Homo sapiens: one gene and its partners. Each later gene encodes a partner of the first gene's protein in a complex. Each region holds a gene or a part of one and is shown in the gene's direction. Other genes may lie near its edges.

What was found.
Region 2: ECSIT (region 1) and TMEM126B share a complex: the UniProt entries of both Homo sapiens proteins name them as parts of the mitochondrial complex.
Region 3: ECSIT (region 1) and COA1 share a complex: the UniProt entries of both Homo sapiens proteins name them as parts of the mitochondrial complex.

Annotation. Positions count from the first base shown.
Region 1 is NC_000019.10:11,526,026-11,533,952, reverse strand, and holds the start of ECSIT (evolutionarily conserved signaling intermediate in Toll pathway, mitochondrial isoform 1 precursor), read left to right. Parts: upstream 1-4,818; 5' UTR 4,819-4,891; intron 4,892-5,087; exon of another isoform or gene 5,088-5,208; intron 5,209-7,927.
Region 2 is NC_000011.10:85,631,496-85,637,053, forward strand, and holds the end of TMEM126B (complex I assembly factor TMEM126B, mitochondrial), read left to right. Parts: intron 1-191; coding exon 192-313; intron 314-2,590; coding exon 2,591-2,784; coding exon of another isoform or gene 2,785-2,810; exon of another isoform or gene 2,811-4,010; intron 4,011-4,171; coding exon 4,172-4,283; intron 4,284-4,550; coding exon 4,551-4,734; 3' UTR 4,735-5,041; downstream 5,042-5,558. UniProt on the Homo sapiens protein: As part of the MCIA complex, involved in the assembly of the mitochondrial complex I. Participates in constructing the membrane arm of complex I.
Region 3 is NC_000007.14:43,719,437-43,726,550, reverse strand, and holds part of COA1 (cytochrome c oxidase assembly factor 1 homolog), read left to right. Parts: intron 1-7,114. UniProt on the Homo sapiens protein: Component of the MITRAC (mitochondrial translation regulation assembly intermediate of cytochrome c oxidase complex) complex, that regulates cytochrome c oxidase assembly.

The DNA of each region.
Region 1 (7,927 bases):
TACAGTGAGCTATGATCATGACACTGCTTATTTTTTTTTTTTTTTTTTTTTTTACAGAATCTCACTCTGTCACCCAGGCCGGAGTACAGTGGCATGATCTCAGCTCACTGCAACTTCCACCTCCCAGGTTCAAGCAATTATCCTGCCTCAGCCTCCTGAGTAGCTGGGATTACAGGTGCCCACCACCATACCGGGCTAATTTTTGTATTTTTAGTAGAGATGGGGTTTCACCATGTTGGCCAGACTGGTCTCGAACTACTGACCTCAGGTAATCTGCTTGCCTTGGCCTCCCAAAGTGCTGGGATTACAGGCATGAGCCACTGTGTCCAGCCATGCCATTGCATTTTAGTTTGGGTGAAAAATAAATAAATAAGAAAAGAAAAGAATGCTTGACGGCCGGGTGTGGTGGCTCACGCCTGTAATCCCAGCACTTTGGGAGGCCAAGGCAGGCGGATCACGAGGTCAGGAGATCGAGACCATCCTGGCCAACATGGTGAAACCCTGTCTCTACTAAAAATACAAAAAATTAGCCGGGCGTGGTGGCGGGCGCCTGTAGTCCCAGCTACTTGGGAGGCTGAGGCAGGAGAATGGCGTCAAGCTGTGGGGCAGAGCTTGCAGTGAGCTGAGATCGTGCCACTGCATTCCAGCCTGGGCGACAGAGCGAGACTCTGTCTCAAAAAAATAAATAAATAAATAAATAAATAAATAAATAAATAAAAGAATGCTTGACAACATGTAACGCAGAGGAGGCTGTGGGAACATTGTTGATGAGTGTGGGCAATTTGTTGATAGTTTCCCAAATGACAAATGTCCTTACCTTCTGAACAAGTATATCCTCTATTTTAGAATATTCCTCAGAAGTACAAGTGTAGGTGTGAAGAATGACATATGTACAGGAACATTTATTGCAGTGGCCTTGTCATAATAAATCACTATAAATCCCATCAACCTGGGACAAGGGAGATAGACAAAGTTGAAGTTAAAACATATAGCATGTTGTTTCAACTAAATGAAGACACTGTAGCGCTGTGGTTAAGAGTGGGGACTCCAGCTGGGTGCAGTGACTCACGCCTGTAATCCCAACACTTTGGGAGGCTGAGGCGGGTGAATCACCTGAGGTCAGGAGTTCAAGACCACCCTGGCCAACATGGTAAAACCCCATCTCTACAAAAACTACAAAAATTAGCTGGGCGTAATGGTGGGAGCCTATAATCCCAGCTACATGGGAGGCTGAGGCAGGGGGTTTCACCATGTTGGTCAGGCTGGTCTTGAACTCCTGACCTTGTGATCTGTCTGCCTCGGCCTCCCAAAGTGCTGGGATTACAGGTGTGAGCCACCGCATCCGGCCCATTGCGTTTCTTTCTTTCTGTCTGTCTGTCTGTCTGTCTGTCTGTCTGTCTATCTATCTATCTATCTATCTATCTATCTATCTATCTTAGAGATGAGGTCTCACTATGATGCCCAGGCTGGACTTGAACTCCTGGGTTCAAGTGATCCTCCTGCCTCAGCCTCCTAAATAGCTAGAACTACAGTGCCACTGTGCCTGGCCCTCATTGCATTTAATTGTCATATCTCCATACATTCCTACAGTCTATAATAGTCCCTGGGTCTTTCAGGACCTTGACACTTTTGAAGAGTGCTGGTCAGTTATTTTGTAGACTGTCTTCGAGTTTGGTTTGTCTTGAATAAACTGAGGTGTTTGCATTACCAGGAAGAATACCAGAGAGGTGATGATGTATCCTTCTAAGTGTGTCATACCAAGGGCTTCATGATATCACCATGACTCATTGCTGGTGATATAAATGTTGGTCCCTTGGTTAAGGTGGTGTCTGCTAGGATCTTTCACTGTGAAGCTACTACTTTTTATAGGGTTCTTTCTGGGACTGTAATGTTAAAGATTCTGCACCAGGGCCTCACATATGGTGTTCTGTGTTAATACATACAGTACATAAAATATGTACATTCTTGGTTTTTTTGTTGTTGTTTGTCTGTTTGTTTTTTTGAGATGGAGTCTTGCTCTGTCGCCCAGGCTGGAGTGCAGTGGTGCAGTCTCGGCTCACTGCAAGCTCCGCCTCCCGGGTTCACACCATTCTCCTGCCTCAGCCTCCCGAGTAGCTGGGACTACAGGCGCCCACCACCACGCCTGGCTAATTTTTTGTATTTTTTTTAGTAGAGACTGGATTTCACCTTGTTAGGCTGGATGGTCTTGATCTCCTGACCTCGTGATCCACCCGCCTCGGCTTCCCAAAGTGGTGGGATTACAGGCGTGAGCCACCGCGCACGGCCTGTACCTACTTGTTTTTAAAAGACTACTGGCCTGGTGTGGTGGCACATGCCTATAATCCCAGCACTTTAGGAGGCCAAGATGGGTGGATCGCAGTACCCCAGGAGTTTGAGACAAGCCTTGGTAACATATTAAGATCCCATCTCTATTTTAAAATAATAATAATAGGCCGGGCATGGTGGCTCATGCCTGTAATCCCAGCATTTTGGGAGGCCGAGGCTGGCAGATCACGGGGTCAGGAGATCAGACCATCCTGGAGAACACAGTGAAACCCCGTCTCTACTAAAAATACAAAAAAATTAGCTGGGCATGGTGGCGGGCGCCTGCAGTCCCAGCAACTGGGGAGGCTGAGGCAGGAGAATGGCGTGAGCCCAGGAGGCGGAGTTTGCAGTGAGCCGAGATCGTGCCACTGCACTCCAGCCTGGGCGACAGAGCAAGACTCTGTCTCAAAAAATAAATAAATAAATAAATAATAATAATGACTGGGCACGGTGGCTAATGCCTGTAATTCTGACACTTTGGGAGGCTGAAGCGGGAGGACTGCTTGAGCCCAGGAGTTGGAGACCAGCCTAGGCAACATGGTGAAACTCCATCTCTACTAAAAATACAAAAATTAGCCGGGTATGGTGGCATGCGCCTGTAGTCCCAGCTACTCGGGAGGCTGAGGCAGGAGAATTGCTTGAATGTGGGAAGCGGAGGTTGCAATTAGCTGAGATTGCACCACTGCACTGCAACCTGGGCGACAGAGCCAGACTCCGTCTCCAAAAATAAAATAAAATAAAATAAAATAAAATATTAAAAGACTAGTTCTGGAAGGATAAATAAGAAAACAAAAGCCATGACCACCTCAAGAGAAGGACACCAATAACTCTGAAGGCCACAGCCAGGTCAGCGACCCCATCATCTTACCCACTCCCCAGCTAAGCAGAGCTGACTCTGCTTGCTTGTAGCTGCGGGAGCCTGGCAGAGGGCAGTAGCGCTCCCAGCCGCTGCCCACGTGCCTGTCAACTTGCCAGAGAGGAGTGCTCCAGCCAAGCAGCTGATTGGCTACAGGTTTTCTCAGATTGCCCAATCACAAGAGTTCTGATGAGGTGGATGTCCTGCGGCTGCGCAGAGTCCTTGAGGCATCCTAAGGGTAGGTTCTTGCATCCTAGTCTCCATGCCAGCTCACTGCGCCACAGAGGCTGAGGGACTGCAGAAATGGGCTTATGAGGGCAGATAGCCTTCCTTCCCGGGGGACACTGTTATTGCCAATAGCCCATTTTATGTGCTTATCCACCTTAGTTATTAACAGCCTAAATCTGGTGCTTTCTGGGGGAGACCAGGAGCCCCCATTACTCAATCTCACCTCGTTTTATCCCATTTCCTCCAAAGACTCCACTCCGACCACACAGAGTCTTTGCTGTTGTTCCCAGTGCCAAAAGCGTTCCCCAGATATCCAGATGGCTCACTCACTTCCTCCGGCCTTTACTCAAAGGACACCTCACTGAGGCCTTCCTATTTATTTATTTACTGAGACGGAGTCTCACTCTGTCGCCCAGGCTGGAGTGCAGTGGTGCTATATCGGCTCGCTGCAACCTCCACCTCCTGGGTTCAAGCAATTCTCGTGCCTCAGCCTCCCGAGTAGCTGGGATCACAGGAGCACGCCACCACGCCCCACTAATTTTTATTTATTTATTTATTTTTTGAGACAGAGTCTCGCTCTGTTGCTGAGGCTGGAGTGCAGTGGTGTTATCCTGGCTCACTGCAACCTCCGTCTCCCGGGTTCAAGCGATTCTCCTGCCTCAACCTCCCGAGAAGCTGGGATTACAGGCACCCACCACCATGCCCTGCTAACTTTGTATTTTTAGTAGAGACGGGGTTTCATCATGTTGGCCAGGCTGGTCTCGAACTCCTGACCTCAGGTGATCCGCAGGCCTCGGCCTCCCAAAGTGTTGGGATTACAGGCGTGAGCCACCGCGCCCTGCCCTATTTATTTATTATTACTATTTTTAGAAACAGGGTCTCACTCTGTTGCCCAGGCTGGAGTGCAGGGGTGCAATCATGGCTCGCTGTAGCCTCGACCTCCAGGGCTCAAGCGATCCTCCCGTTTCAGCCTCCCGAATAGCTGGGACTATGAGCATGCGCCATCATGCCCAGTTAATTTTTAAATTTTTTGTAGATAAGGGGGTCTCGCTATGTTGCCCAGGCTGGTCTCGAACTTCTGGCCTCCCAAAGTGCTGGGATTACAGGCATGAGCCACCGTACCGGCCCCCTTTCACTTTTTGTTTTTTTTTAATTCATTTTCTCATTTCAGCCGCTGGGGCCTGCGACTGGATTCATAGACTATGACTCCCAAGTCCAGCCTCCCGGGCCATTTCAAGGTTCCCAGGTCTGGAGTGCGTCTTGCCTCATTAGAGGCTGGGCCTGGCTCGTTATGAGGCGGGTCCCAGATCCTTCCGCCTTCCTATTGGCCCACCTCGCGTTGTGGGCGGGACCTATTACACCAGCTTTCTTGATTTGCTACCTCCCTGGAGCTCCCTGACCCGGACGCTCTCTGGGCCAATATGGCAGCGCCCAGCAACAAGACAGAGCTGGCCTGGAGTCCGCGGCTGGCCGCGTGAGTAGGTAGGTCGCGCGCGGGTAGGCGAACGCGAACTGCTGGGCTGCAGGCGGGCCCTTCAGGACCCGGCAGCGCGAGAGGGCAGCCCTGGAGGGACCCAGCTGCAGGGCCAGGGCGCCATGACCTTTCGTAGTGGGGGCGGGGACGCGCTGGGAAAGGCCGCCTGTCTTGTGCCAGCCGCCTCACGCCCCCAGTCTCCCATTTTGCAGATGACCTCGCGAGAGGTCACGCCGCAAGTCGGCAACCGGGCAGGATTTGGAATCCGCGTCTGCCTTTTTCCCCCAAGAGACCCAGAATCCTGGCAGCCGGTTTCAAAGCTGTTGTACGTACACCATACCTCGGGGTTCAGATTTATAGGTGTTTTTTTGAAATTGAGGCTTGTTTCCGTTCAGTTGTTACTCGTTAGGCATCTGTCATATACCAGGCACTGTCCTTGGTGCTGGAGACACAGCAATGAGGAAGATAGATAAAAATCTCTCATCTCCTGGGGGAACCAGACTTTGAACAAATTAGAAATAAACGAAACAGGTGATTTCAGATACTGATAAGTTACTAAAAATGCGTTAATGGTGTCGGGAATTTCGCTTGAGCCCAGGAGTTTCGAGACCAGCCTTGGCAACATAGCAAGACCCTGTTCTCTACAAAAAATTATCTGGGCGTAGTGGTGCACGCCTGTAGTCCTAGCTACTCGGGAAGCTGAGGTGGGAGGATTGCTTGAGCCCAGGAGGTTGAGGCTGTAGTGAGCCGTGATTGTGCCACTGCACCCCAGCCTGGGCAACAGAGCAGGACCCTGTCTCCGAAACAAAAATTAATAGGGTGATGAGGGCTTTTAGAATGTGGGGAATGGGAGATGGTCAAAGAAGACCTTTCATTGAAATGACCAGAGACAGCTGTGGGCAGATCTGGAGGAAGAAAGCTCTAGACAGAGAGAAAAGCAAGTACAAAGGTTCTGAGATGGGATAAACTTAGTTTCTTTCAGAAACAGTGTAGCTGAAGCTGCCAGTGGTAGGAGTTGAGTTTAGAGGGGTAGACCCTATCTGATTTTATTTATTTATTTTTATTTTTTAGAGACAGGATCTCACTTGTTCGTCAAGCCTGGAGTGCAGTGGTGCAGTGCACTCCATAGCTCACTGCAGCCTCAAACTCCATGGCTCAAGTGATTCTCCTGCCTCAGCTTTCCCAGTAGCTGGAACTACAGGTGCACACCACCAGGTCCAGCTAATTTTTTAAAATAATTTTTGTAAAGATCGTGTCCTGCTATGTTGTCCAGGCTGGTCTTGAACTCCTGGGCTCAAGCGATCCTCCCCACTTGGACTTCCAAAGCACTAGGATTATAGGCATGAGCCACTGCTCCCTGGCTATTTATTTATTTTTAGAGACAGGATCTCAGTATGTTGCCCAGGCTAGAGTGCAGTGGCTATTCACAAGTGCAGTCATGGTTCACTGCAACCTCTAACTACTGACCTTAAAGGATCCTCCAGCCTCAGTCTCCTGAGTACCTGAGATGACAGGCATTCACCACCATGCCTGGATAATTCTTAATTTTTTTGTAGAGATGGGGTCTCTCTATGTTGCCCAGGCTGGTCTTGAATCCCTGGGCTCAAGTGATCCTCCTACCTTGGTCTCCCAAAGTGTTGGGATTACAGGCATGAGCCAGTGTGCCCAGTCTCTGATTTTAAGTGTGATATGCCGTTAGCGATTTTAGGCAGAAATCACTAATTTTAGTTGATTTATTTATTTATTTAGCGATGGAATCTCGCTCTGTCGCCCAGACTGGGGTGCAGTGGCACAATCTTGGCTCATTGCAACCTCCACCTCCCAGGTTCAAGTGATTCTCCTGCCTCAGGCTCCCGAATAGCTGGGATTACAGGTGCCTGCCACCACACCTGGCTAATTTTTGTATTTTTAGTACAGACGGGCTTTCACCATCTCGGCCAGGCTGGTCTTGAACTGACCTTGTGATCCACCTGCTTCAGCCTCCCAAAGTGCTGGGATTACAGGCGTGAGCCACAGCGCCTGGCCTAATTTTAGTTTAAAAGCTCCCTCTGGCTGGGTGTGGTGGCTCACACCTGTAATCCTAGCACTTTGGGAGGCCAAGATGGGTGGATTGCTTGAACTCAGGAGTTCGAGACCACCCTGAGCAACATGATGAAACCCCATCTCTACTAAAATACAAAAAATTAGCTGGGTGTGGTGGCACACACCTGTAGTCCCAGCTACTCGGGAGGCTGAGGCATGAGAACCAACTTGAACTGGGGAGGCGGAGGTTGCAGTGAGCCGAGATGCGCCATTGCACTCCAGCCTGGGGAACAGAGTGAGACTCTGTCTCCAAAAAAAAAAAAAAAAAGCTCCCTCTGGCCATAGTGGGGAGAACTGACTGGAGGCAGGAAGGGCAAAAGTGGGAGGCTTGATAGGTATCCAAGTCATAGATTGAGGTGGTGGCTTCAGATAGAAAGAGATGCATTTGGGATGGATTTGGAAGTAGTCACCTAGACTAGTTGATGGATTGAATAGGAGAGTGAGGGACATAGTGGACTCAGAAATGTCTCCTAGGTTTGTAGCCTGAATGGCCAGTAGTAGTGGTGCGATTGGATAGGATGGAGAGGATCAAGTTTAAGCAAGGATATCAGTTTGGAGCAAATTATGTTTGAGATGGCTGGGTATATGCCAAAGTGGCAGTTAGGTATAAAGGCTGGGGCCCAGGGATTGAGGTGAACATTGGGGAGCCATCAGCACACAGATCACCACTTCTCAAACTTTAATGCTCACAGGAGATACCAGGGACTCGCTAAAATGCAGATTTGGGCCTGGCGCAGTGGCTCATGCCTGTAATCCCAGCACTTTGGGAGGCCAAGGCAGGTGGATCACAAGGTCAGGAGTTCAAGACCAGTCTGGACAAGATGGTGAAACCCTGTCTGTACTAAGAACGCAAAAATTAGCCAGGCATGGTGGCATGTGCCTGTAATCCCAGCTACTCGGGAGGCTGAGGCAGGATAATTGCTTGAACCCAGGATACGGAGGTTGCAGTGAGCCAAGATTGC
Region 2 (5,558 bases), on another chromosome or scaffold:
ATGTCTAACAGATAATAAGAGCTCAGTAAATGTTGATTGAATTACTAACAAAGTATGTGAAAGCAGACGACACAGTACCTGGCACACTACTAAACTGTAAATGTTTTCAAATCTGAATCTGTAGAATTCTGTAAGGTTTTATGTAATATGAATATCATTAGCTATTATGGCTCTGGAATTTTTTTTTCCAGGTTTTCAAGATGGCAGCATCTATGCATGGTCAGCCCAGTCCTTCTCTAGAAGATGCAAAACTCAGAAGACCAATGGTCATAGAAATCATAGAAAAAAATTTTGACTATCTTAGAAAAGAAATGTAAGAGAAATGCCCAGGCTGAAAATCAGTCATTTTATTTGCAAGTCTTTTGTATTGCCATTGTTTCTAAGATCCTATTCTTTCTTACCTTTTCTGTTATCTAAGATCCTATTCTTTGAGTTGGCTATGAAGAACACATCTTTAAAAAAAAGAATGGGGGAAACAAGAACAGATGAAAATGGTGGTTTGTTGGAATATTTCGGATTGTGGATAATTTCTTTTGTTTCTTAAAAAGTATCCAAAAGTATTGCTAAAACTTTTGTGCAGTAAATGTATTTTAATTAAAAGTAATTAGGAGAAAACCATTGAGGGGGGTACTTATATTTAATTGGTGAGTAATTATAATCAGTTTAGGATTGATTATCTCAGCCACAGTACTTAGTACAGCAAAAGGGAATACAGATTTCATGGTATAAATATAGTCTCACATTAACATATTGACTTTTTTTTTTGAGATAAGAGTCTCACTCTGTCACCCAGGCTGGAGTGCAGTGGCACAATCTCGGCTCACTGCAATCTCCAGCTCCCAGGTTCAAGTGATTCTCCTGCCTCAGCCTCCCAAGTAGCTGGGATTACAGGCGTGTACCACCACAACCAGCTAATTTTTGTATTTTTAGTAGAGATGGTTTAACCATGTTGGCCAGACTGGCCATTTTGACTTTTAAATGAACAAAGTTCAAGAAAAAAATCAAAGGACAGTTGATGTTATTTCCTGGATTTACATATGGGTCTTAATAAGAAAACTAAATCAGATTTTTTTGGATGAAGTTTTATAAATCTTGGACAAATTATTTTATTTTATTTTATTTTATTTCATTTTCTGTTTTATGGCTTTATTGAAGTATAATTTATATATCTTGACATTCATCCATTTAAAGTGTACAGTTATATGAGTTTTAGCAAATTTATACAGTTATGTAACCATCACCACAATTAAAATTTGGAATACTTCCAACATCCCCAAAAAGTTCCCTCATTCCCTTTTATTTTTTTTTATTTTATTATTATTATACTTTAAGTTTTAGGGTACATGTGCACAATGTGCAGGTTAGTTACATATGTATACATGTGCCATGCTGGTGTGCTGCACCCATTAACTCATCATTTAGCATTAGGTAGATCTCCTAAAGCTATCCCTCCCCTCTCCTCCCACCCCACAACAGTCCCCAGAGTGTGATGTTCCCCTTCCTGTGTCCATGTGTTCTCATTGTTCATTTCCCACCTATGAGTGAGAATATGCGGTGTTTGGTTTTTTGTTCTTGCAATAGTTTACTGAGAATGATGATTTCCAACTTCATCCATGTCCCTACAAAGGACATGAACTCATCATTTTTTATGGCTGCATAGTATTCCATGGTGTATATGTGCCACATTTTCTTAATCCAGTCTATCATTGCTGGACATTTGGGTTGGTTCCAAGTCTTTGCTATTGTGAATAGTGCCACAATAAACATACGTGTGCATGTGTCTTTATAGCAGCATGATTTATAGTCCTTTGGGTATATACCCAGTAATGGGATGGCTGGGTCAAATGGTATTTCTAGTTCTAGATCCCTGAGGAATCGTGACACTGACTTCCACAATGGTTGAACTAGTTTACAGTCCCACCAACAGTGTAAAAGTGTTCCTATTTCTCCACATCCTCTCCAGCACCTGTTGTTTCCTGACTTTTTAATGATTGCCATTCTAATTCATGTGAGATGGTATCTCATTGTGGTTTTGATTTGCATTTCTCTGATGGCCAGTGATGGTGAGCATTTTTTCATGTGTTTTTTGGCTGCATAAATGTCTTCTTTTGAGAAGTGTCTGTTCAGGACAAATTATTTTAAATGTATCTGGGACTAATGAAGAAATAGAAGGCCTAACCAAATGTAAACAGCTTTTTTTTAGATGAACTTAAGCAAAGTAAATCTTTTAGTTGCAGGAAAGGTATTCTTGGATTTGGGTAGCTCATAAAATTTGGCTGCATTGGAACATATTTATATTTATTTGTGGCCAAAATTATTTAAAAGAGCTCTATTTTAGAATTACTGTAAATATTCTTAGAAAGAGAATCATGTCCTCTCATTAGAATACAAGTTCTATGAGGGGTGGGAAATTTCTTTTTTTCTTTTGCTTTGTTTACTGTCCTATCTTAAGCACTTAGAAAATACTTTTCACATATAGTAAGTGCTCAAGAAATATTTGATATTGATATGCAATAACAACTTTTCAGGAGAGGCTGTATCCATTAAGTTCAATGGTATAGTGAACTGAATTTTTCTTTTTTTCTATTAGGACACAAAATATATATCAAATGGCGACATTTGGAACAACAGCTGGTTTCTCTGGAATATTCTCAAACTTCCTGTTCAGACGCTGCTTCAAGGTTAAACATGATGCTTTGAAGACATATGCATCATTGGCTACACTTCCATTTTTGTCTACTGTTGTTACTGACAAGCTTTTTGTAATTGATGCTTTGTATTCAGGTGAATTTAAATTCACTAATGTATAACGTAGTTATGTCTAAGTAAAGTTACTTATTAACATATACTGTTGCTACTGCTAATAATAATTCTTTACATTTATATATTGCTATACAGTTTACAAAGTCCATATACCTTGTCATATTTAATCCCTGCAACAATCCTCCTAATCAGGTAAACTGTATTTTTTTATTTCTGTAGATAAGCAACCCAAACTGAGGCATGTTCAAGTACGCTAATAAGCAACATACTGGGAAAAGAATTGGCTGTGGCATACAACGCACATCATTTCAGTATGCTACCTCCTGCCACTTAAGTTTTGTGACATTCAGTAAGGCATTTCATCTCTGAGCCTCCGTTGTCTTATCTATAAGTTAGGACTAATAGTACTTACCTCACAGGATTGTTGTGAGAATTAAAAGATACTGTAGGTTAAATGACTACCACAATATCTGTCATATTATGGGCTTTTAATGTTATTTCCTGCCCCTCACCTTACCTTGAGTTTCACAACTAGTAATTGATAGAGCATCTATCCCTTGTTCATTCTTCAGGTTCCTGCTTAAGTATCTTTTCCCCAGGGAGACCTCTGATTGCCTCATTGTACACTAGGTGTCTGGATACATTCTCTATATAGTTTATCTTCAAAGTATTGTGTACACTGATAATTATCTATTTAAATATTTATCTCGTGTCTTTCATCTCTGTAAACTGGCCAGAAGGTCAGAGATCAGGTCTCTTTTATGTACCACCGTATTCCTAGCTCCTAGCACGTTCCTGATATATAGTAGATAATAAAAATGTATTAACCTAGAATCCAGGTCTGGTTTGCTAGTTTAGTATTGTCATTATAAAATTGTTTCTGGCTGGGCACGGTGGCTCATGCCTATAATCCCAACACTTTGGGAGGCCAAGACAGGCAGATCACTTGAGGTCAGGAGTTCGAGACCAGCCTGGCCAACACAGTCTCTACTAAAAATAGAAAAACAGTTGAGCATGGTGGTGCAAGCTTATAATCCCAGCTACTTGGGAGGCTGAGGCATGAGAATTGCTTGAACCCTGGAGGCAGAGGTTGCAGTGAGCCGAGATCGTGCCACTGTACTCTAGCCTGGGCAACAGAGTGAGACTCCGTCTCCAAAAAATAAAATAAAATTGCTTCTACAACAACCACATACGTTAGAGGTAATTCTCTATGTGATAAAGTATAATAAAAACTTTTTAAAATGTGCTGCATTTGGCCTGTTATATGCCACAGAGTTTGAATTTCTAATATTCTTTCTATGGTTTAGTTGTGGTTGAGGATAGTGCAGATAACTACTCTGTGAGGTACAACACTGTCTTAATAGCTCTTGAGTTTTAAAGGAAAACCAAATTTACTTTTGTTTTCCAGATAATATAAGCAAGGAAAACTGTGTTTTCAGAAGCTCACTGATTGGCATAGTTTGTGGTGTTTTCTATCCCAGTTCTTTGGCTTTTACTAAAAATGGACGCCTGGCAACCAAGTAAGTTCTTCCTTTTCCTTCTTTTTTCTTTTCTTTTCTTTTCTTTTTTTTTTTTTTTTTTAGGTTAATAAACTCTCTTTCTTCTTTAGCTGTCTATGATATATTTGAATCAAAATGTGGTAGTTTGGTATTTCAGATAGCTAACTTTTAACTTTTTTGCTCTCTACATTATAGATCTAGAAAGGCAATTATCAATTTAGGAGAAGTCAACAAACTTCTAATAGCATTCATATCCAGGAGAGGTGATTAACTCTTTTTTCTTTTTAGGTATCATACCGTTCCACTGCCACCAAAAGGAAGGGTTTTAATCCATTGGATGACGCTTTGTCAAACACAAATGAAATTAATGGCGATTCCTCTAGTCTTTCAGATTATGTTTGGAATATTAAATGGTCTATACCATTATGCAGTATTTGAAGAGACACTTGAGAAAACTATACATGAAGAGTAACCAAAAAAATGAATGGTTGCTAACTTAGCAAAATGAAGTTTCTATAAAGAGGACTCAGGCATTGCTGAAAGAGTTAAAAGTAACTGTGAACAAATAATTTGTTCTGTGCCTTTTGCCTGGTATATAGCAAATACTCAAAAAGTATTCAATAATTCAATCAATAAATATAAGTTTCATCTTACACGTAAGATACAGGTCTTATCTCCTGATGGTGTGTCCATTTTGCCTGGTATATAACAGATAATAAATATCCAGTGTCAATAAATGTAACAATAAAAGTTTCATCTTTCCTCTTTGTATGTGGAAATGGGTTTGGGCTTTAAGGTCTCATCTGTGCAGTTATATATTCATTCATTCATCAAACATTTATTGAGCTATTTCTCAGGCACTGTGTTAAATATAATAAGAAACATTCTGGCTGGGCATGGTGGCTCTCGCCTGTAATCCCAGCACTTTGGGAGGCCAGGGAAGGCGGATCACCTGAGGTTAGGAGTTTGAGACCAGCCTGGCCAACATGGCAAAACCTCGTCTCTACTAAAAGTACAAAAGAATTGGCTGGGCATGATGGTGTATGCCTGTAATCCCAGTTACTTGGGAGGCTGAGGCAGGAGAATCGCTTGAACCCAGGAGGCGGAGGTTGCAGTAAGCTGAGATCTCACCACTGTGCTCCAGCCTGGGCAACAGAGCAGAACTCCATATCAAAAAAAAAAAAAAGAAAGAAAACAAACATTCCTTACCTAGAAGGAACTCAATTGAGGAGGAGTAAGTGTGAACACATACTATGAGAGGATTTGAGAGGTATACACATAATTCTGTAAGGGCAC
Region 3 (7,114 bases), on another chromosome or scaffold:
TATGGAGTTTTGTCTTTATTGATTTTTAGGAGTTCTTTGTGTAGGGATTTAAGCCATTGACTGTTAGATATGTGGCAGATATTTTCAATCTATTTAGTTAACTTTGTTTTATATTTTTTACTATATTGTTTTACATTTTTGTGTAGTCAGGACTTTGCCTCTAAAAGCCTTCTGGCTAATAGTTTAGGATATTGTTCTTTAATTATAGGAGTTATAGAAACTGACATAGTAGTTCCCAGTTAGTGTGACATCTGAGTCCCTGGTGGTATATTTAGCCTAAGAGTGTTCATTGTTTCAGACATTGTTGCCTCCCTGTCTCTCTGCCTTGAAAAATGTGCCATGATCTGCTTCAACTTTGTTCATTTAACTCTCTATTTTAAACAGACTCCAAGAAGTTATTCTTTTATCCTCTTGTTCATGTTTCATATGCTGCATTAGATTTGTGAGAGCCATATTGGACAGTTGGTCACCAAATAGTAGGTACTTTTTTCATACTAGCAGGCATTTATTTGAAGATTATTTAATGTATGCAGAGGTTGAGTGTAGCTATTGTGTTCTGTATTGTTTGGGGCATGTTGGAAAAAGTAGTTTTATAAAATCCTATTAACATTGTTTTGTATTTTTTTAATTTTGTTGGTTAAAAGGCAGTAGTAGTAATATATATAGTATATATATAATATATATATTTTTTGAGATGGAGTTTCGCTCTTGGTACCCAGGCTGGAGTGCAATGGTGCGATCTCGGCTTACTGCAACCTCCGCCTCCTGGGTTCAAGTGATTCTCCTGCCCCAGCCTCCTGAGTAGCTGAGATTACAGGTGACTGCCACCATGCCCAGCTAATTTTTTTGTTTTATAGTAGAGACGGGGTTTCACCATGCTGGCTAGGTTGGTCTGGAACTCCTGACCTCAGGTGATCCACCGCCTCGGCCTCCTAAAGTGCTGGGGTTATAGGCATGAGCCATTGCGCCCAGCCAGTAGTAAAAGTATTTTTAGAAACTGAGCATTTTGAGAATCTAAGGAAAGTGATATACAATAGCTTCCAGAAAAAAATTGCATCTCTCTGTTTACATATAATGGCCAAGATTTCATTCTTTCCCCTTGGCTTGATTCCAGTTAGAACTGTGTGTTTCTTGTTTCAGTGTTTTGTCTTTTCTTTTTTAAAATTGTGATAGAATATACATAACATAAAATTGGCCATTTTAACTATTTGTAAAGATACAGTTCAGTGCCATTAAGTACTTTAACATTGTTGTGTAACCATAACCACCATCTATCTCCAGAACACTTTTTTCTTTTTCTTTTTTTTTTTTTGAGATGGAGTTTCGTTCATGTTGCCCTGGCTGGAGTGCAGTGGCGTGTTCTCAGCTTACCGCAACCCCCACCTCCCGGGTTCAAGTGATTCTCCTGCCTCAGCCTCCCGAGTAGCTGGGATTACAGGCATGCGCCACCACACCTAGCTAATTTTGTATTTTTAGTACAGACGGGGTTTCTCCATGTTGGTCATGCTGGTCTTGAACTCTCGACCTCAGGTGATCTGCCCACCTCAGCCTCCCAAAGTGCTGGGATTGCAGGCGTGCGCCACTGCGCCCGACCCAGAGCACTTTTATCTCCACACACTGCACCCATTAAATGATAAATCTCCGTTCCTCCCTCTTTCCAGTCCCTGGCAACTACCATTATATTTTCTGTCTATGAATGTGACTATTCTAGGGTCCTCATAAAAGTGGAATCATAAAATATTTGTCCTTTTGAGTCTGGTTTATTTCATTTAGCATGTCTTCAAGGTTAATTCATGTTGTGGCATGTGTTGGAATTTTCATTTTTTTAAAGACTGAATAGTATTACATTGTATTCCATAGAACACATTTTGTTTATCCATTCATTAGTCGATAGATATTTGGGTTGTTGCCACCTTTTGGCTATTGTGAATAGTGCTGCTGTGAACATTGGTATACAAATGTCTGAGTTCCTGCTTTCAATTCTTTTTTTTTTTTTCTTTGAGATGGAGTCTTGCTCTGTCTCCCAGGCTGGAGTGCAGTGGTGTGATCTTGGCTCACTGCAACCTCTGCCTCCTGGTTCAAGTGATTCTCCTGCCTCAGCCTCTCGAGTAGCTGGGACTACAGGCGTGCACCACCACGCAGGCTAATTTTTATATTTTTAGTAGAGACAGGGTTTTGCTATGTTGGCCAGGCTGGTCTTGAACTCCTGACCTCAAGGGATCCGCCCACCTCAGTGTCCCAAAGTGCTGGGATAACAGGTGTGAGCCACCGCGCCTGGCTGTGCTTTCAGTTCTTTTAGGTATACGTATCCAGAAGTGGAATTGCTGGATTGTAGGGTAATTCTGTTGATTTTTTTGAGGAACTGCCCGTATGCTTTAGTGTTTTTGTTATTTGCATAAAAGATGAGATTTAAAGGAATTGTGTAATTTAGGCATGGATTATCACGTTTACCTTTCCAAAGGACTATTTCCTACTTGAAGGGGTGTAGGTGTTTTTGTATTAGGACTTGGAGATCTTTGAGTTTTAAAATTATTGCAATTCAGACTAAATAAAAAGTTTATCATGGATAGTTTTCCAAATTGTAAACATCTCTATGATCCAAGATTTTTTGGTTTTTGTTTTTTGAGACAGGGTCTCACTTTGTCACCCAGGCTGGAGTGCAGTGCCATGAACATGGCTCAGTGCAGCCTTGACCTCATGGGCTCAAGTGATCCTCCTGCTTTAGCCCCTCAAGTAGTTGGGACTACAGGCACATGCCACCACGCCGGGCTAATTTTTATATTTTTTGTTGAGATGGGATTTTGCCATGTTGCCCAGGCTGGGCTCAAACTCCTGAGCTCAAGCGATCCGCCCACCTCAGCCTCCCAAAGTGCTGGGATTACAGGTGTGAGCCACCTTGCCTGGCCTTTTTTTTTTCTTAATGCTTTCTGTGTTTTTAGTCTTTTTGGGGAAATTACCCATCATGACAGACTCTAAAATGGAGGTGAGTTTGCAAACTTGTATAGTTCCAAAAGTCTGTGAATTATTCCGGTATCATACTACTGCTCCATTTGGATGCTTTGGCAATTACCCTGGTGTGCTGTGACTATTGCTGCTTCTGACAGGCAAGTTTACCTCCCTCAATGCAAATATAACCATGTCATTAGTTGAAGATTAGGAGATGACCAGCATTATTCTCTTTTACGACTGTATCATTCTTTTTTCAACTATTCTCCTGTTGTTGGAACTGCAAATTATTGTGGGTACTGCAATCCATTTGAATAGCTGTGACCTCCCAGGGATCACTGGGAAAATGTAGAAAAACAGACAACAGTGTGGCTCAACCAAAACTTAGAAAACTAAGATTGCATGTAGCTGCCAGATCCTGGGAACAGGATGGCTTAAGGGCAGCCCTAAGGGATAAAGGGTAGAGGATTATATGTGTTACACCCTTTCTACCAACCTCTCCCTCCCATTGCAACAGCTTTCATAAGGTCTCAGTTTAATATTTCATTATTACTTTACAACCCATATCATTTTATTAACAGCAAGTATATTATCAGGAGAGATGGGAGGAACTGGTATCTTAATGTGACTTTTGCTCTTAGTTTGGGTCTCTGTCATTTGGACTCTGGTGATCTTTTATCTTGTGGGCTCTTGGTGCCTTAAGACATTTGGCATTTGCAAATGTACTGGAAAGGTCCCCAGATGGACTTAGATGTTCCAGATCTCGTGGAACTTTGATGTCACTTGCATTCATAAGTGATCTAGCAAATACCAAGATTACATAGATGCCAAGCACCCAACTTTCCCTGTTTATGCACCAGCTTTTTGAGGGAGATGAAATGCAATCACATAAAGAATGTACTAGCTGGGCGTGGTGGCTCATGCCTGTAATCCCAGCACTTTGGGAGGCCAAGGCAGTCGGATCACTTGAGATCAGGAGTTCCAGACCAGCCTGGCCAACATGGTGAAACCCCGTCTCTACTAAAAATACAAAAATTAGCTGGGCGTGATGGCATGTGCCTGTAGTCCTAGCTACTCGCAGCTGGTACGAGGCACAAGAATCTCTTGAACCTGGGAGGCAGAGGTTGCAGGGAGCTGAGATTGTGCCATTGCACTCTAGCCTGGGCGATAGAACGAGACTCTCGTTTTGTCGTAGGGAAAAGCATTTCCTAGCCAGGCGTGGTGGCTCATGCCTGTAATCCCAGCACTTTGGGGGGCCAAGGTGGGCAGATCACTTGAGTCCAGGAGTTTGAGACCAGCTTGGGCAAAGTGGCGAAACCCCATCTCTCTACTAAAAATACAAAAGAACTAGCTGGGCATGGTGGTGCACACCTTTGGTTCCAGCTGCTCAGGAGGCTGAGGTGGGAAGATCACCTGAGTCTGGGAGGTCGAGGCTGTAGTGAGTTGCAGTGGCGCCACTGCACTCCAGCCTGAGTGACAGAGTGAGACCCTGTCTCAAAAAAAAAAAAAAAAAGTTACCAGAATCAACGGTGAATGTCCTAACTTTTGGTTATAGATTGTTCCTCTCATTGAAATGTTCTGTGCTAGGGGCAAAGATTGACTTCTGGTGTGCAATGGTAGTCTTTAGAAACACTTCTACATCCATATTTAAGTATGTCAGCATGCAGTATTACATTAGAATCTTTCTAATGTTTTTTGGGCTTCAAGCCTTTGAGCTATAAGTAGCAAAACTTTGAAATTTATGTGAATACTTTCACATTATAACTTACGACTTTTCCCATGGTACTGAGTATTTGTATTCTCTTACCTTGTTTTTTTTTTAAATTACCGTACAGTAAAATAAACTTTTTATATTATAAATTTTAACCCATGTACTGATTTCTATAACCAACACCATAGTCAGGATGCAGAATAGTTGCCTCACCTCAAAAACTCCCTAGTGCTATCTCTTCATGGTTAAATCTTCCCCTTACCCAAATAACCAAAACCAAAAAGTAAATGCCATTTTGTGTTTTTATTGTGGGAAGCAGTTACATTACATCCTTGCTTTTCCTCTTTATTAGGGATTTAATCTAAGCATGTTGGGCTAGAAAGGATAAAGTCAACAGTCTCTTCATTTTTTTTTGAGAAATTCATAAACTTTCTCATGCATTTAGTGTTTAGGAATAAAAACATTTGGCTAGTTATCTCTTCCAACAGGTGGCAGTGTTGTGCTATATAATAGGATTTACTAATAAAGATTGTGGCTTTTTGTCAGCTGGACGATAATTGCTGTACATTTTTTACATCAGAAAATCAAGATGGTTAATTAAGAACTGACATTTAACTATTGAAATTATTTTTTAAAGTCTATTTCAAAATTCATCTTATTCTTGTAATGTTACTAGTAAAGCAGTCTATGGATAAAAGTATTCCTTAATACATTTGTATTTGTTTTCAGTGTTTGCAGAATTATGAATTAACTCTTTCCTTAAGGTTAACCTTTGTAGCGGGAATAACTCCAGTGTTGTGGATGAATCTGTGAGTAATAGAGGCTTATCAGTGTGACTTCAGATGTTTTATGTTTCAGCCTTCTCTATCACATGTAGGAATCCCTTTATAACATCTCTGGTAGTTGGTGGCATTGATCAGTAAATGGAGCAGCCATGGAAGAAAGATACAGGTTCTAATTGCCAGCATCCTGATTGTGAAGCCTTAATGGAGATGTTCAGTGAGAAATGATGAAGAGGAAGCTTGTGAGACATTTGCACTTAGGTGACTCATAGGTTTTCGAAGCTAACCCATCCAAAAAATGGATTCTCTTTTTCTTTATACTTCCAGCAACTTAATGTCTGGCAGTATATACTTCCCTAGGGACTGGGGCTGCCATTCATCCAGAGGCTCCTGAGTAATATCCAGGGTCACTTTAAGACCTCTCAGTGTTCTCTAAATTCTACCTCCTAAATATTTTCAAATATGGCCACTTCATCTTTACCTCTCTCGTTGCACAGAACAATGATTTTTCACCTAGATATACTGCTTCCTAATTGATCTGCCAGGATATATTATTACCCCTATTTTTCACACAGCAGCCATTTTTAAAAAATGTAAAATCTGATCATGTCACTCCCCATATTTTTATTCTTAAACAAGTTTGTGAGAAAGTTTGTAAGTTTCTGAAAAAAAAAGAAAAAGGAAGGGGACCATGTTGATTTTATCCTTTCTAGTCCATCATACTTAGATAAAACGCTTAATAAAGAGGAAAGGCAGGGATGCAACATTACTGCTTCCCACAATAAAAACACAAAATTATACTGAGCATTGGAACTCTTTTTTTCCTTTTTTTTTTTGACAGAGTTTTGCTTTGTTGCCCAGGCTGGAGTGCAGTGGTGCGATCTTGGCTCACTGCAATCTTTCCTCCCGGTTTCAAGCAATTCTCCTGCCTCAGCCTCCCGAGTAGCTGGGATTACAGGTGCCCGCCACCATGCCTGGCTAATTTTTATGATTTTAGTAGAGATGGGGTTTCACCATGTTGGCCAGGCTGGTCTTGAACTCCTGACCTCAAGTGACCCGCCCACCTTGGCCTCCCAAAGTGCTGGGATTACAGGTGTGAGCCACCATGCCTGGCCTTTTACTTTTTATTTTACGTAGAATAAACCCCAAATATTTAACTTGACCCACAACATTCCTCCCTCCTCCCTGTTCTGTGATGTGGCCTCTCTTCTTTCTGTTATAGTCTCATCTCATGCCAGTTTCCCCTTGTTCACTGTGCTCCAGCTTCTCTGGTGTTCTCTTTGCTCCTTGATTGGAGGAGGTGGGGAGAATAGATTCAAGGAAACCTGTTTGTAAGCAAACATACATTTCAGGTAATGAAAACAAGGCTTAATACTATATTGAAATATGTGGGTCAGGGGACATTTTCATAGTAGTCAGGAAGCCATCCATCCCTTTGTCACTTTTCAACTCCTCAGACTGAATCTAGGGATAAATGCACACCTGAGTACAGATTCGGTGTGTGGGGAAAGTTATGTTCTAATAGAAAAGGAAATTTAGAACTCGACAGTGATTACCTGTAATACTGTTAGTTGTGGATAATCCTTTATATTTGGTAGCTCTCACTTAGTTTGACTTTATTTTTGTAATTTCATTCTTCTAGCATTTCATTATTTATTAACTTTGATTTTTCTGT